4 linked regions of the Homo sapiens genome follow. The protein of the gene in region 2 interacts with the protein of the main gene of each other region in a pairwise test. Each region holds a gene or a part of one and is shown on either strand. Other genes may lie near its edges. The genes, in order: SMURF2, TNPO3, CAMK2G and SSX2B.

What was found.
Region 1: the proteins of TNPO3 (region 2) and SMURF2 interact in a two-hybrid assay, tested with the Homo sapiens proteins (one large-scale study listed by BioGRID and IntAct).
Region 3: the proteins of TNPO3 (region 2) and CAMK2G interact in binary tests that used the Homo sapiens proteins (3 or more experiments, as listed by UniProt).
Region 4: the proteins of TNPO3 (region 2) and SSX2B interact in a two-hybrid assay, tested with the Homo sapiens proteins (one large-scale study listed by BioGRID).

Annotation. Positions count from the first base shown.
Region 1 is NC_000017.11:64,541,782-64,544,544, reverse strand, and holds the end of SMURF2 (E3 ubiquitin-protein ligase SMURF2), read left to right. Parts: 3' UTR 1-2,263; downstream 2,264-2,763. UniProt on the Homo sapiens protein: E3 ubiquitin-protein ligase which accepts ubiquitin from an E2 ubiquitin-conjugating enzyme in the form of a thioester and then directly transfers the ubiquitin to targeted substrates.
Region 2 is NC_000007.14:129,043,260-129,051,338, forward strand, and holds part of TNPO3 (transportin-3), read right to left. Parts: intron 1-8,079. UniProt on the Homo sapiens protein: Importin, which transports target proteins into the nucleus. Specifically mediates the nuclear import of splicing factor serine/arginine (SR) proteins, such as RBM4, SFRS1 and SFRS2, by recognizing phosphorylated SR domains.
Region 3 is NC_000010.11:73,866,257-73,874,335, reverse strand, and holds part of CAMK2G (calcium/calmodulin-dependent protein kinase type II subunit gamma), read left to right. Parts: exon of another isoform or gene 1-1,133; coding exon of another isoform or gene 1,134-1,135; intron 1,136-1,252; coding exon 1,253-1,347; intron 1,348-8,079.
Region 4 is NC_000023.11:52,754,969-52,763,047, reverse strand, and holds the end of SSX2B (protein SSX2), read right to left. Parts: intron 7,249-8,079; coding exon 7,199-7,248; intron 5,195-7,198; coding exon 5,059-5,194; intron 3,548-5,058; coding exon of another isoform or gene 3,402-3,547; intron 2,705-3,401; coding exon 2,604-2,704; 3' UTR 2,600-2,603; intron 2,135-2,599; 3' UTR 1,512-2,134; downstream 1-1,511.

The sequences.
Region 1 (2,763 bases), on a different chromosome or scaffold from region 2:
GAAGCAACGAAAACTCTGGGGTGAGGGATTGAAAAAATCTGAAATCACAGTTGGATTTTTAAATTCAACCATCAAAAATATGTACTATCAGTTTTTTTTTACATTGATGTGAAATAAGCAAATTTTCATGATAATTAAGCTGCAAAATTTAAAGTTATCAAGTAAATAGGTCCTCTGTGTTCTGTTTCATGTGATGGAGTGGGTTTCAGTCTGTGTTCTTGGAGCCAAAGGGTTCCTCAGGGGTGCCTCAGGAGTAATGGTTTAAGAGAAGAGGGGCAATGAGAGGGAGCGAGGGGGAAGGCCTAGTTGGTATTTGAGCAGGGGCCTTAGGCTCCATATCCCCACCCCCTTTACCCAGAACAGCCCATTTTTCTTATGTATATTGGAATTTCAAGTAAGCTTTCATGGGGTGCAGTGGGGCGGGGAGGAATGGATGGGATAAAAAAAGTGGAGATTTTGCTGCTTTAAAAAAGTTGAGAACTACTTGTGTAGTTTTTAAGTATTTTAATGTATTTCATTTGGCCAAATTCAACTGCCACAAGCAAGCTAGTCATAGTTGTAACTGTGCAGTGGTAATATGCTTATGCCTACCTTTTTCCTCTCAAACAATTTGTTTTTTTTACATTGCATTCTGAGTACTGAAGAGCATCTTGAAATGTATGGAAGTGGTTTCTATGCTATTTGATAATCAGTAATGTTCAGCTGTCATGATAGTACTTTACTGGTTGCAGACCCATCTCTCTTTTATATTAAAGCACTAGTGCAGTTTATAATTGTGCCTACTTTTAAAATCTTTCAGTAAAAAAGTACATAATGAATACAGAAATCATAACTGACAGGGATACAGTAATAATGAAATGCTACTATCACTTATTTTAATATACAATATAAAGCAGGCAAATACCATTGCTTTTTGAGTGCCTTTTTAACTTTATACTAATGACTTAATAGAGCTTTAAAAGAAAGAAATTGGCTGGGCATGGTGGCTCACACCTGTAATCCCAGCACTTTGGGAGGCCGAGGTGGGCGGATCACCTGAGGTCAGGAGTTCGAGACCAGCCTGGCCAACGTGGTGAAACCCTGTCTCTACTAAAAATACAAAATTTAGCCGGGCATGGTGGCGCACTCCTGTAATCCAACTACTTGGGAGGCTGAGGCAGGAGAATTGCTTGAATCTGGGAGGCAGAGATTGCAGTGAGCCGAGATCGCACCACTGCACTCCAGCCTGGGCGACAAGAGTGAGACTCCGTCCCCGCCCAAAAAAAAAAAAAAAAGAAATTACTCTCCATAACAGTCTATGTTATCACCAACATATATAAAAACATGATTTAGATTTCCATTTCAAAGTTACATTACCCGATTACTTCCAAATAGGTGCTAAGCAAAAACCCCCAATGTATTATTGAACCATGGACTTGCACCTCATGTTTAATGTGAATATTTATTTCCATGTCCCTCTTAACTGGTTTTTTCTTGTCTTCCCTCTAGCTGTATTGTTATTTCAGATATGTGATATCTGTTTTCATACTCTTGCCTTTCCATCATGAATGCTTAGTTATGAACAGAGATTCCTTTGTAGAGCTCATAGGCAGTACAGAGAGGTAAGTCTTGCCTCAGAGGGCCTTGTATCTTGGTGTAGTTTTTAAATAGTGCATAGTGTATAGTGTATAGTGTACATTTTGTTTTGCACATAGTTTGTTGCCCCGAATGGGTTTTTTACCAAGCCTTTTTTTCTTTCATGTATTTACAGTCCGGAGCACAAGATTCTCTTCTTTCAAATACAATGTAATTCGCTTTACTTTACAACACTAAATCTGGGCTTTGAATTTCCAGTGCATTGGACTGATTGGATTGTTGGGAGTTAGAGGCTGTTCCAACCATCCTTAGTTTGGGAGAGTGGCTCCTTCTGCTTGTTTTCTAAGCGTACAGTCAACGGGTGCCATTTGTGGTATTTAACATGTTAGGATGATTGTTCCAAATGCTGAGTTGTTTTATTTCTAGATGTAATTAGTTCACTTTATGTAATATTCTTCTCTCAGACTGACTTTAAAAACAAAGTTTTATCATTTTCATTGTATTTGTATTTATTACAGAGTGTTTTAGCTTTGATATTCTTTGTATTTTCATTCATTTGTTACATGAGCTTTATCAGTAACATCTGTATAAATGGTTTTTAAAAATTAACTATGTATGTGCCCATGCCGAAGTCGAGCAATAAAATCAATGCTGTTTGCACTGTCACAGCATCAACGTTTTTAAAGAATATTGAGTTTGTAATGAATCGTTTTGAAAACATTTATGGTTGGCTCTATGGAGGGTGACAACATGAGTCACAAAATGAAAAGTTCAAGAACACATGCCATCCTGAGTTGATGCCTCTGTCATGTTGCAGAGCTCAGCTTTCTGTCTCCTCGCAGAGCAGGGAAGGTGCCCGTTTTCTCCGGCCGTGGTGACTGCTCAGTTGGTAGTACCTGTTGGGGGTACCGCATAGGTGGATTTCTGAGGGGGGTCAGGGGCTAGTGGGGAAGAGCATCTTGGTCCTGTCACCAGTCTGCAACCATCTTTGCTATAATACATCTCCGCTCTGTAGGGCAGGCCTATGACAGGGGCTCATATTTGCCAGCCCTACCTTGGTATGTCGAGCAGTAAAATTCTCAAAATGAAAAGGAGAAATCAATTGTATTTTTTCTAGAAGCTGTGGATTTTAAGGTTTATAATTCACTACTGTATTAATGATAGTGGACTAAAGTCCAGCTAACTCTA
Region 2 (8,079 bases):
GGATGTGATGGTGCGCACCTTTGGTCTCAGCTTCAGGGGGTGGGGGTAGGGGACTGAGGTGGGAAGATCACTGAAGCCCTAGTTACAGTGAGCTGTGATCCTGCCACTGCACTCCAGACTGCGTGACAGAGTGAAACCCTATCTCTAAAATAAACTGAAATTGAATCAAAATAAAAGAAAGGAATCAATAAGGCCAATGACAGCACTGCACAGTGGGGTCTTCCCGGATTCTTTGAAATCCCAGAAGTTCTGAGACAAGCATTTTTAAATAATCCTATATCATAATGACCTCTGACAAATGAATTTTGGCTGAACTACATAGTTGTTGGTCACACATAAGATGGTACTAAGATATCTTGCCCCAATTTTTTCATGACAAGAATCCCTATCCAAAATAATAATCCTCAATTACCTATGAATGTTGGTATTAATCTCAAGAATGGCCCTGAAAAAGACAAATAAATTTAGATCCATAAAGCCAACTTCAGTTGGGAATGACCAAGTCAAGCATTACTCGATAATCTTTTCACTGTGGGCCTTATTTATACTAGGCAGTCTTGCTTTAAAAATAGAAAATGCCAAGCTTGAAACCATTTCATTTGAAACAAATGGTTAGCCCATGCAAAGGCTTCCTGAAAGCCAAAATACAGAAAATTTATCTTCTTTCAACACTGGTCTCTATTTCTGCCTACCTGCTCAGTTTTATAACCCATATAAACCAGATGAGAATTCTATTGTACATACAAAGCATATGTTAACAGTGCTTAAGACTCAAATTTTTCAAACTTACATAAATGTAATATGTCTAACTTAAAGTATTGTAATAACGCATTAAAGTGGTAATTAAATCTCTGAATGCTTATTTATATAAAAGCATGTATATTTTCTTGAACCCCGACCTCAAGTGATCTGCCTGCCTTGGCCTCCCAAAATGCTGGGATTACAGGCATGAGCCACTGCGCCTGGCCTTTTTTAGTTTTTTTGTTTTTGAGATGGAGCCTTGCTCAAAACATCTATGTTTTCATGTCTAGTTCCAAATATATTCTCTTGCTTTGAAGATAACTGTTAAAATATTACACTATGACTGAGACAGAAAATACAACTAGGAAGCAATGAACACAAAATAGAAAAAAGAATTGTGCTGTGGGCTTGAGAAAAAAATAAGTAAAAACCATTATGCAAACTCTGTTAACAGAAAACCCACCAAAAGGAAAAATACTTGTTTTCTAATTTCATTTTGGATACTCTACCAGAAGAAGAAAATTAAATTAGTACTTTTAAGAGTATGTACATAACAAACACTACAAAACTATCCCTTGTAGCAATACTGTTAACTTCCAGTAAAGAGAAATAAGGTTTATCTTAGAGGCTTCACCTATACAGCTGTAAAAATACTCTCTGGTAACATTTCAGCACCATGGTACAAGTGAGGGAAATACAGGACAGGTAGTCTGAGTAATATCAACTTCCTAAGAAATAAATTTGTTTTTAAGTTTAACAGAGCTTAAAAATCTGGGAAACAGTATGGCAGTTCCCCCAAATAAGTAAACAAATAAATATAGAATTACCATATGATACAGCAATTCTAATTCTAGGTATACTGTATATCTAAAGAATTGAAAGCAGGTACTCCCACAAGTATTTATACACCCATGTTCATAGCAGCATTATTCACAAAGGTGCAAGCAAGTGTCCATTGATGGATAAATGGATAAGCCAAACGTGGTATATATACATACAACGGGATATTATTCAGCCTTAAAAAGGAAGGAATTTCTGACAATGCTACGCACATGGATGAACCCTGAAGATATTATGCTAAGTGAGAATAGCCCATCACAAAAAGGCTAAATACTGTATGATTCCACTTACATGAGGTACCAAGAATAGTCACATTCATAGAGACAGAAAGTAGAATGGTGGTTGCCAGGGATTGGGGCGGGGAGCAAATGGGCACCTATTTTGTTTAGTGGGCATAGATTTAGTTTTACAAGATGAAAAAGTTTTGAAGATGGATGATGGTGATGGTTGCACAACAATGTCAATGTATGTAATACCACTGAACTGCACACTTAAAAATGGTTAAAATGACTGGGCACGGTAGCTCATGCCTGTAATCCCAGCTACTTGGGAGGCTGAGGAGGCAAGATAGCTTGAGCCTGGGAGTTTAAGGCTGCAGTGAGCTATGATCGCACCACTGCACTCCAACCTGGGCAACAGAACAAGACCCTGTCTCAGAAAAAAAAAAAACGTTAAAATGCTAAATTTATGTTTTGAATGTTTTGCCACAAAAAAAAAAAAATCTATAAAACCTACTTTCCATTTCCTCCATAAACATCAGTGCAATCAATCACTGTAAAAGAATGCTGAAGAAATATCTGAAAAACTTTGGAAAAACTATTGTAATTAGAAAATATAGTAGTACCCTGATAATTTTACATCCTAAATCAAACTATCAACTTTGGCCCAAGGCCTGGCAAGACAAGAAACTAATCAAAATATGGAGAAATGCCACCACATAACAGACTACCATGGCAACAGAAATACTGTCACAAAATCACAAACATAGACTCCAATACTTCAAAGACATGAAATGTTCTATATTTGTACCGTACAGTACTTGGAATGTGGGTAAGTGCAAATAAGAAACTGATTTTAGGCCGGGCGCAGTGGCTCATGCCTGTAATCCCAGCACTCTGGGAGGCTGAGGTGGGTGGATCACGAGATCAGGAGATTGAGACCATTCTGGCTAACACAGTGAAACCCCATCTCCACTAACAATACAAAAAATTAGCCAGGCATGGTGGCATGCACCTGTAATCCCAGTTACTCGGGAGCCTGAGGCAGAATTGCTTGAACCCGGGAGGTGGAGGTTGCAGTGAGCCAAGATTGCACCACTGCACTCCAGCCTGAGTGACAGAGTGAGACTCCGTCTCAAAAAAAAAAAAAAAAAAAAAAGAAACTGATTTTAACTTTTACTTAATTTTAAGTTTAAATAGTCACACTAGACTGGTGGCTACTACACTGGATGACACAGCTACATTGGTACACTCTCTGGGAGAAAGATCTTTGGTTTTCATTATTTACATACTCCCAGTTTCTATCAGTGCAAGGCACAGAGTATTCCTAGACTGAACTCATCTACTGAAGTTGTATAGGAATATTTTCTATTTTCTAGAAGGCTTTCCTTTCAAAAGCATGTTTTGACTGGAAGGTGCAAGCATAAGCACACACAAAAAATGCCTAAACTTTCAAGATAAATCAGTAATGACCAGAGAAAAGCCAAAAACCCTAGGTTTTATAACCAGGCTAAAGAATCAATAAATTCCAAAAAGGAAAAGTACTAGCAAAGAAGTTTGAAGCTGATATTCCATGACCCATGTATTAATGTGTTCTCACACTGCTAATAAAGACATACCCAAGCCTGGGTAATTTATAAAGGAAAGGGGTTTAACTGACTCAGTTTCACATAGCTGGGGAGGCTTCACAATTATGGCGGAAGACGAAGGAAGAGCAAAGCGACGTCTTACATGGCGGCAGGCAAGAGAGAGCTTGTGGAGGGGAACTCACATTTATAAAACCATCAGAACTTGTGAGACTTATTCACTACCACAAGAACAGTATGAGGGAACCCCCCATCATGATTCAATTACCTCTACCTGGCCCCACCTTGCCACAAATCGGGGGGTATTATTACAAGGTGAGATGTGGGTGGGGACATAGCCAAACCATATCAACCCAAGACCTTTCTGATATGATATCTAAGAAGAAAATTCCTATGGACATGTGATAAACCAAACATGACAATGCCAACTTAGTCTATCAAAGCATGACTTTACTTCATCTGCTTTGTGCTTTTGATGCTTTCCATCAAAAAGCTGCATACACCCATGCTGAAGCATGCCTATTCAGTTTCCATACTGAACTATAAAACTTTTGAGGTAATATCTAACCCAAAGATTGTCTCTGTAAAAGTTATCTCCTACTTACAACTTAAATTAAAAACTTATAACTGAGTCGCTTAAGTAATTGGCCCTATGAAGAGATGGTCTTTCCTTCAATAGCTCTCTACAACTTCTACTAATTTTGGTTAGTAGGGGTGGACAAATGAAACTACTAAATATACAGGACAGGCTACTAAGATTCCTTTAAGATCTGCCTCAAAATACTCTCTTTCAGAACACTTTGAAGTTATCAGTGATATCTATCTATCACATAAAACAACCATGGCTGTACATCTCCAAAAATTTTGGTGGAAGTTTAGAGCAATGAATACAGATTCTTCAGAAAATGGCTGTTTTATACAAATATTAGAGAAAGAGAAAAGATGCTAACTCACAGTACAGGCTAAAGCATATTCAAATTATACCTCTATACCACGTCTACTGTCACCAGGTCATTCGAACTATACTCAATTACTCTCGGATTAGTTAGGTGGGGTGGTAGAGAAGAATAAGGATAATAGTTTCACAAATACATATTCTTGAAAGTAGTTTTTTAGCAAACCACACAAATTCTATGCCTTACCAATTTCAAATGGATGTTAAAACACTATAGTTATTACTACAGTTAAAACACGCTTTTGTTCCAGTAGACAAAATCTTCCGGAAAGAAAAAAACCACCACACACATTACTTTTGGTTACAAATGCCATTTAGTGACCACTTAAAGAGAGCCTTGGCCAGGCACAGTGACTCATGTCTGTAATCCTAGCACTTTGGGAGTCTGAGGTGAGAGAAGTGCTTGAGCCCAGGGGCTTGAGACCAGCCTGGGCAACATGGCAAGACCCTGACTCTACAAAAAATACAAAACATTAGCCAGGTATGGTGGTGCATGCCTGTAGTCCCAGCTGTCCAAGAGGCTGAGGTGGGAAGATCACCTGAACCCAGGCTCAGGTGAGCAAGGCTGCAGTGAGCAGTAATCACACCTCTGCGCTCCACAGCCTGGGTAACAGAGTGAGACCCTGTCTCAAAAAACTAAATAAATAGACCAGGTGCAGTGGCTCACACCTCTAATCCCAGCACTTTGGGAGGCCAAGGCGGCCAGATCACTTAAGGCCAGGAGTTTGAGACAAACCTGGCCAACATGGCAAAACCCCAATCTCTACTAAAAATACAAAAATTAGCCGGGCATGGTGGCATGTGCCTGTAGTCCCAGCTACTTGGGAGGCTGAGGCAAGAGAATTGCTTGAACCCAGGAGGCGGAGGTTGCAGTGAGCCAAGATGGTGCCACTGCACTCCGGCCTGGGCAACAGAGTGAGACTCTGTCTCAAAAAATAAATAAACAAAGAGAGCCTTATTGAGTCAAAAAGTTCCTCTCCCTTTCTGTACCTGAATATTTGCAAGTATGAAATGAGGGCAACATATACATCTCATAAAGGATTTAAAAAAAAAAAAGAAAGAAAAAAAAAGACTGGAAAGACTGAAGAGCATTAAAGGTGCTGAATATTGTTTATTTTTAACCATGTATATGGTGAAAAGTGACAGCAAAAATAAATAAAACTCGCAGATAAAGAAAAATGTGAGTTATCCAACTGAGTATCTGCATGTATGCACTTCTGACAATCAACATTTTTAAGAACCTGTGTGTGAAGTGTCTTGATTGTTTATCTTAATAACCATGGTTTATTTCTTCAACTATGGGTATTGGACTACATAAACAAATGTGACAAGAATCCCAGTCTAGTAGGGGAGGCAAAACACTTATTTTCAAAAAGGTTTATAAAAAGGCAAACACAATGAAGTAAAGTTCTCTAGGCATTCATTGGGGGCTGAAATCACTTTTGGCTGAAGAGAAGCAGGTAAGCCTTGAAGGAGAAAGCAGAATTTAGGTTGGGCTTTCAAAAGATGAGTTAGTTTCTGCATTTGAAGAAAGGGTTGGGAAAGGGTAAAAGCAGAGAAGAAAGTAAAGTTGGGCAAAGGCGGCATCCACTCTACCCCAAAATATTTGTGTACTATGAGAAATATTTCAGCTATTTGGATGCTGATGGGAAAGACTCAGTAAAGGAGTCTAAAGATGCAGACAAGACATAGGATAAACCAAAAGATCAAGGTCCCAGAAATTTCAGAAGATTGAGAGATGCAAAGCACCTAGATCTGACAAGAGGAGAAGCAGCTGCATACAACCATGCTGAAGTCTGACCAAATTGGAGGGGAAAGGTGATGGTGTATTTATAAAATGACTAGAATGATAGATCTTGGAATCCACATTTGGTAAGGAGAGAAGTAAAAACAAGAAGACCTAATAAAGAAGAAGTAAGGAACAGTCAATGAACTGAGGTTTTGATAAAATTCAAGAACTAATGCAGGGACTTCTGTTTAAAATGACTAAACTAACTGATTGAACACAGCTGTCTGCTTTCAGGTCCTTCCAAAAATCCAATAAAAATCAGAGTAAAGATCTTTTTTAAAAAAGGCAAAAACACATAAAGACAAAGAAAATGGAAACAGGTGACAGATATCAATAGAACTGTGGAAACTGGAAAGCTAAAGGACAGTGTTAACTGTCTTAGCAGATCCGAAAAGGCTGATATTTGCCTGGGGGTGGGGAGGGAGGATGAGACGAGAATAGGGAAGGCAAGGGACAAACTATTCATGTTGCAAAACCCAGGAAGACTGGGGAATTGGAAGCACAGGTACATCTGAAGGCAGATGCACAGGCGGAACAAAAAATAAAGGAGTGGAGCTGGATGTGGTGGTGTGCACCTGTAATTTCAGCTACTCAGGAGACTGAGGAGAGAGGATTGCCTGAGACCAAGAGTTCGGGTCCAACCTGGGCAATATAGCGAGACCCCAACTTTTCTTTTCTTTTTTTTCTTTTTTTAAAAAGGGTGAGGTGGGGTGGGCTGGGCGCAGTCACTCATGCCTGTAATCCCAGCACTTTGGGAGGCCAAGGTGGGCAGATCACAAGGTCAGGAGACCGAGACCATCCTGGCTAACATGGTGAAACCTTGTCTCTACTAAAAAATACAAAAAATTAGCTGGGCATGGTGGCAAGCACCTGTAGTCCCAGCTACTCTGGAGGCTGAGGCAGGAGAATGGCGTGAACCCGGGAGGCGGAGCTTGCAGTGAGCTGAGATGGCGCCACTGCACTCCAGCCTGGGAGACAGCGAGACTCTGTCTCAAAAAAAAAAAAAAAAAAAAGGGTGGGGGGGGAATCGGCTAGTAATGCAGCCTTAAAACAAAAAAAGAAAAAAGTTTAAATAAATAAAAGGGTCAAAATCTGTGTAAGAAGCAGTAGACTCCTAAATTTCCTCTCTGACTCTGAGCAACCAGGCTACTACTCTCCCACCATAACAGAAGACTCAAGGTTTACTGTGGAAAGATTGAAGTAGGTGGTCTCTGGACTCTTAGACAACAGACTCAGCTAAAGACAGGAGTATCATGCTGAAAAACAAGAGATTAAATTAAAACCTACATACTTAGTTGTGAGATCCATCCCCTGGCTTCATTCCCTGAACTGGCTTTAGAACACTGGCAGTCTAGCTTATAACCCCCAGGCTGACTAGAGAACTCAAGGTAAAAGCAGCCCAAGAAAAACAGACCAACAGAAAAGCAATGAGAGAAAGGATGAAGGTTCCCTTCTCGATGATCCATTAAATGGAAGAGTAACCCAAGAAAACATCATGGAATCCAAGAATCAGTGGATCCAGCACAACAAAGAGGCAAAGGGAATTCCCTAGGACAGTGTTTATGGAATCCCATGACAGTAATTATCCAACAGACCTAGCGAACCAGGCCAGACTGGAGCAGGGAAATGGAGGGCTCTTGGGATACATATTTCCTTTAGCCAAAAAAGAAAACAAATCACCAGTCTGAACAATGAGGATATTTACAGTACTGAGATTTGAGGGTGACTTATTGTGGATACCCAGAAAACAAAATGTTAAAAAAAAAAAGAGGTATTTGATTACCAACAGGAAAAAAAAGGTTCCACAAAATTTTGTTTTAAAAATAAAACTTAAATATTAGTAAAACTACATAAAGATTTCAAAAAAAACTAGGTGACATTATTTGATATTTTTGAGCCAGCAAACTGGAAAACAGTGGGTTATGATCACAGCAGAATGTCTGAATCAGT
Region 3 (8,079 bases), on a different chromosome or scaffold from region 2:
GCCCCGCCCCCCGGCCCTGCACCGGCCGCTGCGGCTCCCCCTCGGCCGCCCCACCCCCGCCTTTCCCGCCCGCCGCCTTCGGTCCCCGCGCCCCCCGCGCACTGCCCCGCATCCCCCTCCGCGCCCTGCAGCAACTGGCGGGGCCGCTGCTCCCCACGCGCCGCCGCGGACACCGCAGACCCCGGACCGCTCCCGGGTGCCCTCCAGCCCCGCCCCTCCGCACCCTTCAGGCGCCCCCCTCCCGACCACCTCCCAACGCTGCCCGGTTGCTCACTCCGCACCCTGAACCCAGGTCCCACGCGCCTCGCACTCAGGACCCTCCCCAGCCCTGCAGCCCTAGCTCTGCTGCGGAGCCCGGGCGTGGGGGGGCTGTTTGGCGCCCGGCCCCGCCCCCCGCGGGTGCCGCTCCAGGCTCCCAGCCCCGCGGCTGGGCAGTGCTGCGGCACCCCCGTCCCCTCCCCCCACCCCTGCAGTGGTCCCGGGAGCCGCGCCGCAGCCTCAGCATCCCCCTCCCCTCCGCACTGAGCTGGCCGCTGCAGCAGCCCCGGCCCCCCACCCCCACCCGCGGCGCCGAGCCCGGCCACTGCAGCCCCCGCCCCGCCCGCCCCCCCAGACGTTTCCAGAGCTCAGAGTGCGAGCTCCCGTTTGACGGGGACGTCAAGGAAAATAGCATGGGAAGGGGAGTTCTTGATGTCTGACTGTGTCCTCTCTTCCCTTGCTGTCAGTTGAGCCGGGATGCAGTGAGATGAAACCGGCTGTGGGGGGGTTTGAGCCTCACTTTGCCCCATGGTTGAGGGAGATTTCTCTTTCAGGGGATGATACCCTCTTTTTAATCTTTCCTTCCCCGACCTTCAACTGTTCCTGCTGAGAGAAGGGCAGGGTCTCTCTGCTCCCTTCTGCCCTGGTTCTCTTGGCCGGGACCGCAGGGCTGTCTGAGATGCAGCAGGTGTGTGTTTTCAGCATCGCCCACCCGCTCCTGATGTGCAGCCTGAGGTGGAGGCTGTTGCCTTGCCCAGGGACTGGATGAGGGGGTGGGAGCGCGGCACGCCACCCACATCTGTTCAGTGTCCTGCGGTGGCCGCGTCCTTTTGCCTCATGTTGGATGGTGGTGGTCACAGCGCCGGTGTGTGTGCATGTACGTGAGTGTGACTAGAGGTCTGGTGGTGGGAGCATCATCGTCCCCAGACTTGAAGTGTGTCTGTGTCACTCTGCCCTGCTCCGTGTCCCAGTTCTTTTCCCCTTCTCCCTCCAGGGGTGCTTTCTCTGTGGTCCGCAGGTGTGTGAAGAAAACCTCCACGCAGGAGTACGCAGCAAAAATCATCAATACCAAGAAGTTGTCTGCCCGGGGTGAGTGTTCCCTGTCTTGACCTCTTCCTGAGGGTGCCTCCAGGGGCCATGGTTTCTTTTGAGGAAGCCCCAGGAATTGGGGGTTGTGCGTTTTAGCACTTGGAGAGGAGTTGGAATTTCAGACTGGTTGGACTTTGTGTCAGGCTGAAGCCAGAAAAGGAGTTGCATGGGGGACTGGAAGCGCCCAGGTACAAAAGAATGAAGGAAGAGATGCAAGTAGCTGCAGTGGCCCCCAAAGGCTCAAGGGAGTTCGGTCTTCAGGGAGGTGGAGGATATGGGGGTAGTGGGTGGTACAGAATGGGGAGCTCTTAATTTGGGGCATTTGGAGCCTCTCCCTTTGGGGCAGTGGTGGCTACTGCAGGCCTTTCCTGGTCCCTGTGCCCCAGTGGTGACTTAGGATGGAAATGCAGTAAGTGAGCAGCTCTGACAAAGCCAGCCTCCCCTGCCCACCAGGCGGCAGAACAGACTCCCAAGGGAAGGGAATCTGTAAACATCAGGGGAGGCTGCTACTGGCGAGGGCTTCTCAGGAACAAATTCTGCCAGATGAACTTGATTGCTTTTTTGATCAAATTACAAAGTTGGTGGTGCAGCAGCAGATGTAGTCTGTCCTGGGTGGAGGGTGATGCCTCATGGTCTAGAAATCCCAAAGGCCCGGTTTGGGCAGGAACTGCACTGCCTCCGAGTCTGAGGAGCATAAAGGCCAAGGCCTTGGGGCCTCACTTGCGAGATCCTCCCAAGTACCTGAGGCTTGGAGGGTCAGGGCCTGTCTTTCACACCTTGAACCTACACTCTCTGAACTTCCTATTGGGTACTTGCCAAACTCACCTCATCTGATAGGTGTAGACCCAGCAATGTGTGAAGTGCTCTGGGAACAGGTCTGGTGAGTACAGAGGTCAGATCTCGGAGGGCTGCAGGGTGCAGCTGGGGGACAAAGGTTGTGAAACTCAGAGAAAGGAATTAGGGCTGGGCAGTAGGATGCCATAAATATATTAGGAGCCAGGACACATGCCCTGGGGAAGACATGGGCTTTGGCCAATAATGACACGGGTTTCTCTGGGATAAGAGACATAATAGATGTCCCAAATGCTTAGAGAAGCTCTACAATTCCACGGGCTTCTGTCGTGTTGGCAGTTGTTCTGGGACCTGTTTAGCAGGGCCGTGTCCACTCCCTGACTGGGGACTCTCTCTCCATCCCTCTAGTAGGGCACTAATTGCTGACTCCCATCCAGCTCCATCTCTTGCTGTTCGTGTACATTGCCTATAAAGTTGGACTTGTTTGTTTTCTTTCTCTCTGGGTACCTTGAGTCTGAGGATGGTTGCCATAGAGATATGTGGGCAGTCAGATACCCTGGAGTGGGGGTGGGGGGGACAACAGGGGCTGGGCTCTCTGGCAGACATCCTCTGGCCAAGGATGGAAGGTGCAGGCAGGAACAATGGCTTGAGGCTGGATACCTCTCTTGCCCACACAGCAGAGCCCTGGTGCATCAGAAACAGGGCTGGCATCTGGTGTCTCCAGTTGATGATGCAATGCTTTGCTCTCTTCATCTCACCAGTGTCCTCTGACCCATGGGTAAGAGAAGGAGAGATGGCTGGGAGCCGAATTCTGGGATGTGAGGATAGGTGATGTGGTGACTTCCTGCAGCTGCCTGACTGGGGCTTTCATTTCCTACTCCTTCCCTACCTGCGTAAATTTCCATGACCTGTGTGATAGCCTCCCTTTCCCTTCCTCACCTCCTTTTAACCTTGTCCCATCTTTCCCAATGGATATCTTTCCCTGGCCAAACTGGATGAGACTTGATTTCTCGTTGATTTTTTTTTTTTTCCCCTCAAGAAGAGGATTCTTGTGTAAAAGTATATGCTTCAGACAGCAACTCCCCCTCTCCCAAGATGGATATGCCAAGACTGGGCTCTGTTGTGTGGCCTCATGTGCCAGGTTGACTTTGGGACAGAGGCACAGATGATAGGCACAGATGCCAGCCAGAGGGGTCAGAATGTGTAAGTGCCAGCCAGTACTGTGTGGAGGTGGGAAAGTGGAAAGGGGCTGTCTTGGAGATGGAGGGAACAAGGTGGGGCTGGACTATAGGTGTGGGCATGGGAGATGTGAACTCCTGGAGAGATCTGGGCCAGGGTAGCCATGGGCTGGTTCCCATGGGGTTAGGGAGTGAGGGCCATGGCTTCCCTGCAGACTCTCAGTTTACACTATATATTTTATAAAGGTGCAGCCACTGGAGCTGGGTTTCACTCATCGCTGTCTGCCTAGGTCTCCGCAGGTGTTGGATTTCTGTGTCTGGGAATGTCGTGGGCCCACCAGGGTCATCTGTGAAGGTCTGAAGGGGCTTGCTGTGTTCACTGGGTCTTCCTGCCTCCTGTCTTTCTTGTTTGTGATTCTCTGGGCTACAAACTGAAAAGATAAAAAGAGGGTATAGAGCTGTTTCTCCTTGGCATCCCTGGTGAGGTGGCTAGGAGTCAGGGAGAGGGATCACCTGTTCTTCTGGGGGGGTCCAATCGAGACAGGAAGCCTTCTTTTGGGCTGTTGTGTCTTGTCACTGTGGCCTCAGAGGCCCACATTGGCGGCTAGGTTGCAAGGTGGGGAGTTCATGCGGATATGCGTTGAGCACTGTCTTTGTCTGCGGGCCTGTCTACATAAAGTCACTGAAAGTCACATAACGTCACTCCGTTTGCTTCAGAACCGTGATAGGAGTGGAGCTGGGCTCTTAAGGGAGCCCATGGTTCCAAGCTTAGCTCCACTAGGCCGAAGGAGGCATTTAAAATAGGCTTGGATGCAGGAGCTAGTGGGCCAGGTGATGGCAATGATAAGTCGTTATTTTAAGATTTAAGAGCACCCCCCTCAAGGAGCCTGAGCCCTTATGTCTTTTTTTATTTTTAAATCTTCATATTCCCTTCTTATCTTTATTCATATGCATACAGATTTTCACCTCGTGGAGCATAACATTTTATATCCTGCTCTCTTTGCTTATATCCAAAGCATTTCCCCCATATTACTACAGTTGAAGGGCAAATGGTCCTTTCTTCTACGTCGTTTAGGATTTATCCCTAAAACAATCAGCATCACAAGAAACTTCTGTATATGTACCATTTATCTGGATTCCAGTTGCTTTTACCAAGATAGATACTGGGGTAATGCCCTTGGCCTTACTAAGAGATGCTACCGGAAACAGTGTTTTGAAATCTGTTATAATACTTTAACATATTTATTTAATCTGTACATTCCGTGTGAAGAAATTTCTTTTGAAGCTAAATGTAAGCAAAAGCTTTCCTCTTTGTGAGGACCTGAGAGGTGAGGGAAGGGTCCTTATGTGTTTCTATACTTCTGCATGGGCAGGCCCTAGCGAAGTGCCTGACGTATGCCAGCCACATACACATTAAATGAATGGGTCAAGAGGACTATGTAACCAATCATGGTTGCCTTTTGGCTTTGGCTCCTAGGAAACTCAGAGTCAAGTTGCCAGAGCCCTTGTACCCTGCTACAGACTTGGGTCCTCCCTTTCTGATCCAGGGAGCCAAGCTGCAGACCTGATACGGCTGCTGGAAGAGAGGACAGATGAGGATAAAGACCTGTGCTTGGGGCATAAGGCAGAGTGGGAGATGTAGGCAGACATTTAGCTGATGATTCCTCCTTCCCTGTCACTAAATGGCACTATAGGGCCACTGTTGGGATCTCTTCCAGGTAGTGATTTTCAATTTTAGTGTGCGTAAGGATCACCCTGAGTACTAGTTTAAAAAATACAGACTTCTGGGCTTTAGCCACAGAGATTCTGCTTTAGGAGGTCTAGGGTGGAGCTGCAGAATCTGCATTTTTAACACATGCTCCAGTGAATTTCATGCAGGTGAGGCATGAGCCACTCTTTAAGAGATGCCACCTAAAATCTGCAACAACAGTTGCTCTTGCCATGCCCTCTGGAATTCAACAGACACACCTTGGCCCATCCTTCTCCAGATTGTGTGTCTGCCACTATGTGGCCATCTGTGCACATGGGCTGTTCTGTGATTAGGGGCCTCGTTCTGGGCCTCGGGATTGGGGTGTCTGTGTCTGAGGCTGCGGCAAGCTGGGTGGCTCGGGTTGTGGCATGTTGGCCACCAGAAGGGTAAAGGCTGTCCCTTTCTGGGTCCAGCTGGCCCTGGGGACTGAAATGGGATCCCCTGGATGGTGCCAGCTGAGAGTCCCCGCCCCCTTAGTGTTGGCCTGAGTAGCCCCCATGACATTTGTGTCCCCTGTGGTATCTCCAAGTGAGACTTTCCTGTTAAGGATCTGGGTGAAGTGAGGGAAAGAGAAGGGAGGGGGAAGCAGTAATGCAGGGAGTGGGAGAAGGAAGAGAAATCCACACAGCACTGGAACACAGGCCTCGAGGAAGCATTTAAGGAGGCTGTGTGCGAAACCATGCTTTCCTCCTGAGGATAAAACAGGCCAATTTCTGTAAACAGAGAAATGGGCATCCTGCATATCAGTGATGGAGCGCCTCTACTTTCTCTCCTGAAGGGATGGAAGCCGACTGCAGGTCCCTCTGTGCAAAGGCTTCTGCCAGGCGGCTTTTGTCACGCGGTCACGTTGAGCTGTGGGCCTTAGCACACACAACACTGGCCTGTCCCCCTCCCCTCCCACCTGTCTTCCTAGAGTGACTTGGGGTGCTGCATCATGGTGTGGGGATGGAGGTGGGAAGGTTGCCCTGTCCTGTCAGGGAGGCCCCTGCCTTCTTCCTGCTGCTTCCTCTGGTCCCTTGTCACCATACCCTTGTTCGAAGCTGTGCTGAAACCCTAGAGGTGAGTGGCTGACCCCATTCTCTGCTGAGACTGGAGATAGGGAAGGGGAGGCTGGGTGTGACCATTCCTGCTCCCATCTGTATGCTTGCTGCTCTCTGAACAGCTTTGGCAGACCAACAAGGGCCTGATCCCATGGGTGCCAAAAGGGTGGTGACAGGAGGAGATGGGCACTTTGCACCTCTTGAATGCCTCTCTGCAGAGCCCCTTTGTCACCTACCCATGGCCAGACAGATCTGCCGCAGGACCGCTGGGGAAATCAAAGCACAAAAGCTTTGTCTGGGGTCTTTTTTTTCTTTTTTGGTTTTGTGCTGCAGGTGCCCATGACTTTGCCAGGGCTCAGACCCAGCGTCCTCAGGCCGTGTGGCCTCCACCCACTCCTTGGCGCCTTTCTTTAAAACACAGGTTCTGGATACTTTGTTCCTGTGATGAATCTTGGCATATCACCTCACACCTCTCCATCTAGGCCCCAAGCTCCAAGCCTGGTGGAGCAAATCCCTCCTCGTTGCTGGCTGAGGCCCCATTCCCGTCTGTACCCACCTCTCTGGGCTGTGCGGTGGGGAGATTTCCAGCCACTCCTCCCCAACACCATCTCCGCTTCCTGGGCCCTATCAGCAGCAGCCGCAGCTTCCCATCTGCTCCCCTCTTTTCTCCTCCCTTTCTTTCCCTTCCCCCCTGCTTGCTGCTGCCCTGGGAGGAGCTATTTTTAGGGGCTGCTTCCTGGGATGTTTTACTTGGGGCTGGTTACCATGAAGGAAATGTCACCAAAACAGTGGGCAAAGGCTGCAGGCACCGGGAGCCCTGCCGGGGGGCATGGAGAACAGACGGCTGACCCTTTTCTGGCCCTTGAGAGCAGCCAGAGTGCCCCCAGGCAGAGCCTTGCCTTCTTGGGGCTTGCTAGTGACCCCTTGGGGATTTTCTCTGTCAAAGCTGATTGAGGGCCTTTTCGCTATAGGGCATTTCTTGGAGCCTCTCGCTTCCCTTGCCTTGAGATCCAGAGGCCAAAGTGGGGCTCAGGTCTTTGTGTCACCAAGTTAAAACTGCTTGAGTGAGGGTTGAAGATAAGGGGAGGATGCTGGGTACATGCACAGAGCCTTGGGGGTTCACATGGGACCATTTCAGGCCCCGTCCCTCTGTATCACAGCCCCCAGCTAGTCACCAGGTGTACATGTGTGAGGGCATTAGAAACCATGGTCCTGCTCTTGTGTGTCGGATGGACTTTGCTTTTAATTGGAGACTCTTTGCATCTTTAGAGTGAGATTCAAAGAGGAAGGGATGTGGCATCACAGTGTCAGGGTGAGGTCGGTGGGATCGTGGCTTGGGATTCCCACTGGTCAGTGTCCCAGGCCCAGGGCTGTGCATAAGCAGCTGGGGAAGGTGGATTATGACATCAAATCCCTGCGATGTCCTTGTTTCTGCTCCTCAGAGTGCCAAGGGGACCAGACGGCGGCCTCTGCTGCTTGGGAAGAAGATGAAAGGCACTCAGGAGGGCAGCAAGTGAGGCCGCCTCCCATGGAGCCCTGAAATCAGTGGGGTTGCAGGAAGTTTCTCACATCCATGTTTAGGGTCATAGGCACAGACCTGCAAAATACCCTTTACAAAGTTAAGAATGTCTTTGAGATTGGAACTTGGGAGAGTCCTCAGTCAGAGTAGGAATGTGCATCCTTTCCCACGTACAGAGGATTGTATGTTTACGTGGCAGCAGGATCTTATTTGAAGCTAGTGCTGGCATTTGTGTTTTTTTTTTAGGAAAATGTCACTAAGTCAAGCAGGCCCATCCCTGAGAGGGCCATGGAGAATCTGTGGCCAGCCCTCCCTGGCCCCCTGACCTGGCAGAGGAAGGAAAGGGCATTGGAGTAGGCTTCTGTCTTCAGGCCAGAGGGGGAGGTGGTTCAGGGGCAGGCTTGGTGCACCCCTTGGCTGCAAGCTATCACCTCCCTATCTGCTTCCTCTTTT
Region 4 (8,079 bases), on a different chromosome or scaffold from region 2:
ACATGTGGCTTTGTCTCCCCTGCTTCTTTGCCTGCCCCTCTTCTGCCCACCCTTCGTATCTCTGTCTCCCACTGTCCCTGCTGTGACCACAACTGCCTCTCCCTCCCTGCACTCTCTCTCTCCTAGGGCTCCTTGTCTTCGGTAAATGAACCCACAGCCTTTACATTTTGATTGGGGACAGAGCCCGGGGCTTGTTCAATTCCCCCTCCCTCCACCACACACACCTGTCCTCCTTAAAGTTTCTGAAGTCAGTGAGCTCCAAACTCAGCCCCTCCTGCACCTGCCAGCTGTAGGACCTCTGACAAGACACCTACCATCTCTCTGGGACTCCGTCTCTCATCTATTATATTGGCATAATGATGATAGTGTCCTCCTTCGAAGGCTGGGGAGAACCAGGAGGCCAAGGTGATGGGCCACGAACGGGCAAAACAGCTCCAATCCTGCCTCCACCTGGGGCTGGTGTTTCAAGTCCATTGTGTGTGAATGGAGCTTTGATGTCTCCATTGACACGCAATGGTTTGTTCTAAAATAGACTCCCCTCTGCCCTTCCCTTCCCCACAACTGTTTCACCTCTGTACCGTGCAATGGTACCTGTGAGAAAGAACTGTCCCATTCCCAAATCATCATCCCCACCCCAGCCCCCAGGCCTTTGGTTGGTGAGACCCTTGATGGGCGCTCTCATGCTTCTGTCCAGGAGACTTTCCCACCAATTGCTCCCCTGCATGGAGACTAAGTGGACTCTTCTATTCCCTGTCCATCACAGGGTCTACATTGCACGCATCTGCCTTATTCTTCCACGTTCCCCAGATGACGATTTCATCTGTGTCTCCTCCCACATCCACCCAAATGGACCGTCCCAGACCTTGAAACCGAAAATCATTCAGAGAGCAAAGGCCAAGATGCCCAACCACCTGCTACAGAATCCTGCTCCAGGACTGAAGTGTATAGTCTGTATCAAAATAAAAACTGGAGGACAGGTGCTGCGGCTCACGCCTGTAATCCCAACACTTTAGGAGACCAAGGTGGGAGGATTGCTTTGGCCCAGGAGTTTAAGTCCAGCCTGGGTAACATAGAGAGACTTTCTTGACAAAACCTTAAAAAACTTAGTGGATCATGATGGTGCACGCCTGTAGTCACAGCTTCTCTGGAGGCTGAGGACGGAGGATTGCTTGAGCCCAGGAGTTCAAGGCTGCACTGAGCTATGATCATGCCACTGCACTCTAGCCTGGACAGAGCAAGACCACCATCTCTAGAAGAAACAAACAAACAAAACCCAACAACTGGAAACATCCTCCTCTAGAACGGGGGTCAGGAACTCCTGTCTGCCTTGTTCCCTGACGTCGCTCCAGCACCTAGAACAGCGCTCAGCACGAGGACGCACTCATTAGTGTTTTGTTGAATAAATGACTCCTTTGACACAGCAATTCCACTTCTAAGAATCTTTCCTAAAGAAATATGCACACACGTGCACAGAGCTGTGTGCACAATAATGGCACGAGCAAACAACTGGGGAACGTTTGCAAAGGTTTATTAACTGTCAGTGACTGCTACAGGGGAATCGGATGAGGGGAGTACATGCTGACCAGGAAACAGAGTGAGGGGAGCTTGACCAGGACGCATGGCAATGGGAAAAGCAGATGGCAGATGCTTATACTGGTACTTGGTGTGTGTGTGTGTGTGTGTGTGTGTGTGTGTGTGTGTGTGTGGTGTGGTTTGTGTGCGTGTGTGTGTAAATGCAGAGGAAAAAATCTGAAATTAAACACTCAGAACTGCCCTCAGTAGTCACATCTGGGGAGAGAGGAGGGTAATGCTGTTCCATGCAGAGGTAACCGACAATACTTGTTTTCTAAGGTAGGTGCATGGATACACAAACCAAAATATGCATTAAGTATGTCTTGCTCATCAATGAAAATGTTAGTATCTAACAGAATGACACAGTGTAAGAAAATACAACGTAAACGCTAACATCGAACTCTTGGCACACTAAGAAAAATGACGCTCAACTTTTCACTGTTGTGAACACTTGCTTTCACTTGCTATGCACCTGATGACGAGGGGTCCGCAGCCATGCCCATGTTCGTGAAAGGTCACCACGTTCTGCTTCTCATCATGGGCATGTGTCGTATCCCTGAGGCTGAGGCAAGAAGAGAGAAGGAAATAAGTGGCAGTGAGTTCCCACCACGTGGCAACGCAATCTCAACTCCTCCTGACCTGCAGACCCTGCACACTCCGATTCTGCCCTATCTCAGGACCTGCACACGCCTTCCACGGTTCCTCGAAGTGAACCATCTGTTCATGCCACAGTGACTTCCTCGCCTGGGTTATCAATTCCTAGGCTAGAGAAAGGTGTGGCCCGCATATCAGGGCTTACTTGGGGTTTGGGACCCCACAGCATCCTGGGTAGGGAGGATCCCCGGATATATACAGGGCAGGGAGTAGAAAGAGCATGGGAAATCTCTCATCGTTCAGCCTCAATGCTGTACAGTAGAAAATTGTAAGAAGGGAATGATTTGGGGAGCAAGTGACAGATGGGATACCAGTATCATAACAGAATAGCACGTCTGCAGGGATGTGGGGGATGAGTGGAAGGTTCTCTTACGGAGTTACTCGTCATCTTCCTCAGGGTCGCTGATCTCTTCATAAATCACCAGCTGTTTTCTCTCACGCAGTCTGTGGGTCCAGGCATGTTCCCCCCTTTTGGGTCCTGTGATGGAGAATAGTTGGAAAGTGAGGGTTGGGAAGGTTGGAGAGTGTTAGGCTCTGTTTACTCAAAAAAAGGAGATGCCTGCTTCCTCCCAAGTGCCCATGGGCCTTCTTCATCCAGTTTTTCACATTCTCTGGCTTAGAGAGGCTGAGACCTTAGATCCACACCAACATAGGCCAAATGCCAATTAAAGTTTTAGCTTCTGGCTCCTTCCCTTCTCAGGCTTAGATTCCCAACCTCTTCACTTACGGGAACATTCCCCCATACCTCCTTTCATCCAGCACGTATTTGTTAAGGCCACACAGGCGTACCTTGTTTTGTTGCACCTCATGTTCATACTGCTTCGCAGATGCTGCAATTTTTTTTTTTAATTCTCACCAATTTTACACTTTTCCATTATTATTATATCTGCTATAGTGATCTGTGATCGGTGAGCTTTGATATTATTACTGCAATTGATTTTATTGTTTTTTAGTGTTTTAAAATAATTTTTGTTCTTTATTTTGTGGGTACGCAGCAGGTGTATATTCTTATGGGGTACATGAGATGCTTTGATACAGGCATGCAATGGGTAATAATCACATCATGGAAAATAGGGTATCCATCCTCAAGCATTTATCCTTGTGTTACAAACAATCCATTTACACTTTTAGTTTTTTTTTTAATGTACAATTAAGTTATTATTGACTATAATCACCCTGTTGTGTGTAATTGTTTTGGGGGTACCATGAACTGCACCCATAGAAGTTGACAAACTGAATCGACCAATGTTGTGTGTGTTCTGACTGCTCCACCGATGAGCTGTTCCGCGTCTCTCTTCCTTTTCTTGGGCCTCCCTATTTCCTGAGACACAGCAATACTGAAATGAGGATTATTAACAACCTTACAATGGCCGCTAAGTGTTCAAATGAAAGGAAGAGTCGCATGTCTCTCACTCTAAATCACAAGCTAGAAATGGCTAAGCTTAGTGAGGAAGCATGCTGAAAGCCAAGACAGGCTGAAAGCTAGGCCTATTGCGCCAAACAGCCAAGCTGTGAATGCAAAGGAAAAGTTCTTGAAGGAAATAATAATACTAATACTCCAGTGAACACACGAATAAGAAAGCAAAACTGCCTTACTGCTCAAATAGAGGAAGTCTGAGTGGTCAGGATAGAAGACGAAACCAGTCACAACATTCCCTTAAGCCAAAGTCTAATTCAGAGCAAGACCAGAACTCTCTTCAAGTCCATGAATGCTGAGAGAGGTGAAGAAGCTGCAGGAGAAACATGTGAAGCTAGCAGAGGTTGGTTCATGAGGTTTAAGGAATGAAGCCGTTTCCATAACATAAAAGTGCAAGGTGAAGCAGCAAACCCTGATGGAGAAGCTGCAGCAAGTTATCCAGAAGATCTAGCTAAGATCACTGTTGAAGGTGGCTACATGAAACAACAGATTTTCAATGTAGATAAAATAGCCTTCTATTGGAAGGAGATGCCTTCTAGGACTTTCATAGCTAGAGAGGATTGATTTCAACTTTGAAAGAAGTTCTACTGTGGGTAAAATGCTATCCAATAGCATCACATACTACAGAGAAATCCTTCATGAAACGGAGAGCTAATCGATGTGGCAAATTTCACTGTTGTGTTCTTTTAAGAAACTGCCACAGCCACTCCACCCTTCAGCAACCACCACCTTGATCAGCCAGCAGCCATCAACACCGAGGCAAGACCCTCCACCAGCAAAAAGAGTGTGACTCACTGAAGGCTCAGAAGATTGTTAGCATTTTTAACAAAGAATTATTTTTAAATTAAGGTATATACATTTTTAGACACAACGCTATCGCACACTTAGTAGACTACACTATAGTATAAACATAATGTTTTTATGCGCTGCCAAACCAAAAAACAACGTGTGTGACTCACTTTATTGCAGTGGTCTGGAACTGAACCTGCAGTATCTCTGAAGTACACCTGTATTGGGTAACAGGCATGGCATTGAGCTGAGTCTTAATCAGGTAATGATCCCAGGTAATCACAGATAGAATTGCTTGAGCACCTTTCATGTCATCAGGCCTTCTAGATTAAATTTAATGTCTCCAAACAATTTATGAACTATGATTCCTTATTTCCATCTTACGGACTAGGAATCTGGAGCTGAGAAAATCTGAAAGACTTGCCCCAAGTCACATGGTTTTTTCTATGGGTGACAAATCAAGTCTATCTCTGGAAGTCATGTCTAACATCTCATCTGGAGCTGGGCGAGCTCCTCAGCCCAGTCTGGACCCAGGGTTATCTGGGATCCATGCCACACACCCAGTCCATATACCTGAACATCGCCAGGGAAGCCAGAGGGATTGTTCCTGAATTGCTTCCTCTTACCAGATCTCTCGTGAATCTTCTCAGAGGTAGTTGGTTTTCCCGGGGGGCACAGCTCTTTCCCATCATTTTGTGGGCCAGATGCTTCTGGCACTTCCTCCGAATCATTTCCTTCCTCTGCTGGCTTCTTGGGCATGATCTTTATAATGTGAAGATCACAGATAAATAGTATCAGTGACATATCTATAGTGCTTTTGAGCTTACAAAGGGTCTTCACATGCATTAGCTTATTCAATGTTCTCAACAACACTGGGAGAGTTACACAGGCCTAAATTAGGAGAAACCTGGGAGGGGAGGTTAGAAGGGAAAGGAATGGCCTAAGTGAATATGGTTTCCAGGGATAGAATGCTTATCTTCCCACTCTTTTAGGACTGACATTCTTGCAAACAGCAAAAATCTCCATGTAATTGAGAGTGTGATATACAGATGATTTGGAGAAGAGTAGCATTCTAAGAATTCACAAGGTCTACAAAGGGAAGAGGTTCTGTAAAATACAAGGGATCCCATATAAGCTTCTAGACAGCTGCTGGGAGAGTAAATGTAAAAACATAGGGAGGCGACAAAACACTGCTGGGAAAGATGGTGTGGGGAGATGAATACAGGGAAGGGAGAGGGAAAGAAATGGTTTGCCGAAATTAATCTAGGCAGCAAACAAAGCAGTACCAGATATGACATACTACCCTACTGGGGCACCGACATTCAATGTGGAATTCAGTGAGGTGGTACCCATACCAATTCTGGTTGCATTGGGATGTGTCACTGACCAACAATCTTAAGCTACTTTTTTTTTTCTTTCTTTCTTTCTTTTTTTTTTTTTTTTTTTTTTTTTTTTTGAGACGGAGTCTCACTGTGTCGCCAGACTGGGGTGCCGTGGCATGATATCGGCTCAAGGCAACATCCGACTCCCGCGTTTAAGCGATTCTCCTTCCTTAGCCTCCAGAGTATCTGGGACTACAGGCAGGCACTACCACGCCCCGCTAAGTTTTGTATTTTTAGTAGAGACACGGTTTCACCATGTTGGGCAGGATGGTCTCGATCTCTTGACCTCGTGATCTGCCCGCCTCAGCCTCCCAAAGTGCTGGGATTACAGTCGTGAGCCACCGCGCCCGGCTCTTAAGCTACTTTTCATTCAGCTTCCTCCCTTATGAAATAGTGAACCATACATGTCAAATAGCCTACAGTAAAGTCCTCTCTGAGCTTGTAAACACTGTTTAAATGTCGTAATAATAACAATTAATACCTTTCACAATCCTTCTTTGAATTCAGTCTCCACACTGGCAACCCAACTCCCAGATCCCTTTACCCTCCAAACCAGAGTTGAATCTGCACTTGTGGGATCACTCATTCAGGGGCCTCCGAGGGATCCCCTGGGCTGGGACTGGGCCTTCCCAGATGCCCCAGGTGCAGACAAGGCACTCAAGGAGCTCACAGTAGGGAGGGGCCAACAATCAAAGTGATTCCTAAGCCATGCAAGTGGCCCCAGCAACACAGCAGAGACCAGATGGTCCTTCCTGTTGAGAGAGTGGGTGTCTCATTGGAAGCACCAGCAGGCCCTATGGGGTGAAGCCCTAGTGAGCAACATCTGAACTTCATAGACAAATGCAAATGTGAATGAGCTTTAAATGGCTTGGAGCTCTGGATTAGACTACCACTGCCACTGCGCCCCAGGAAAATTCTTTAACATCTCTGTACCACGATAGCCTCATTTTATTATTATGTTGCTGATAACTATGATCTAAAACATGAACTATAATTCTTTACTTCCATTTCATGGACCAGGAATCTGGAGCTCAGAGAACTTAGAAGATTTGTGTCAAGTCACATGGCTTTCATATGGATGAAAACTGAAGTGTGTGACTCATTATTATTTGGAGATAATAGAAACAATGTCTTCTTAAGGATTAAATAAATTAATCCATGTGAACTGCTTGAAATAGTATCTGGCATCACTATGAAAACAAAAGAAGTATTAACAATCGCAACTGTTGGTACTATCAAGCCGTCGGTGCGACATCAGGTGTTGTGATAGACATGGGGAGAAGAAGGCAGTGAGGGCATTTTTGATATTCTCCCACTCTTACCAGTGTTCGCATCCGTGGAGGGACAAAGGTTCTCTGGTCCTTTAGATCTGAGAGACACTCACCTTCGGGGAGATTCCCTGGAGCCTGCCGAAAGTCATCTGAGGACGTTCAACTGAAAGAGAATACATCAGAATTTTTCTTTGTTGGTAAAGGTTTCCAAACTCTAGAGAGACTTCTGTCGCATCAGGGTATTCTGCAGCAGAGGGTTATGAGTCCACTCATTGTTGAGGAGTTATTTCAGATTTGCTTCTGAATTATGTTTAGTCATGGTTGGTGCATTTATCTGTGGCATCAATTCAGAATTTTCCATCTCATGGTTTATCACATGGGGACTACACCCCATCACAGTCTCATCTTATTCCATTACATATCTTTTACTTTTTCCCAAATAATTAAATTGATTGGTTAGGAATCTGAACTGTATCCACTCAAGATGTGCAACAACTGAAAATCATTGTACACTTCAAATGGGTGAATCTTATGGTATGTGAATTAAGCTGTTAAATGTGTGATGAACCATGGATGATTTGGTCCAGTGGCTCTGAAATATTTTCAGTATAAAGACACTCCTTTACTGTCAAAACTTGGCAGATACTCAAGCACTGGCTTTTCAGGTCTCTTATAGTGATTGCGGGAGATTGTAGAATCTGGCCTGTTTAGTTGGCGAGTAATAGGTCTATTGGAGACGGTTTGGACATTCTGACCTTGTCTTATAATTATGTTGTCAGAGTAGAAGAGCAAGTAAATACATATGTCCCCTTTATATTCCTGAAATGTACAAAGCTCTCTACCCAAGAACCTATCTTTTTTTCACCCTATGTTATCTCTGCTCTCTGACAAGTGGGAAAGCTCTCTGTGTGTTGGATAAGGGATCACTCCTTCAAACTCTCTTCCAAGCTCATTACGGAGAATCAGGGTTCTTTGGGAATGAGAAGACTATTTG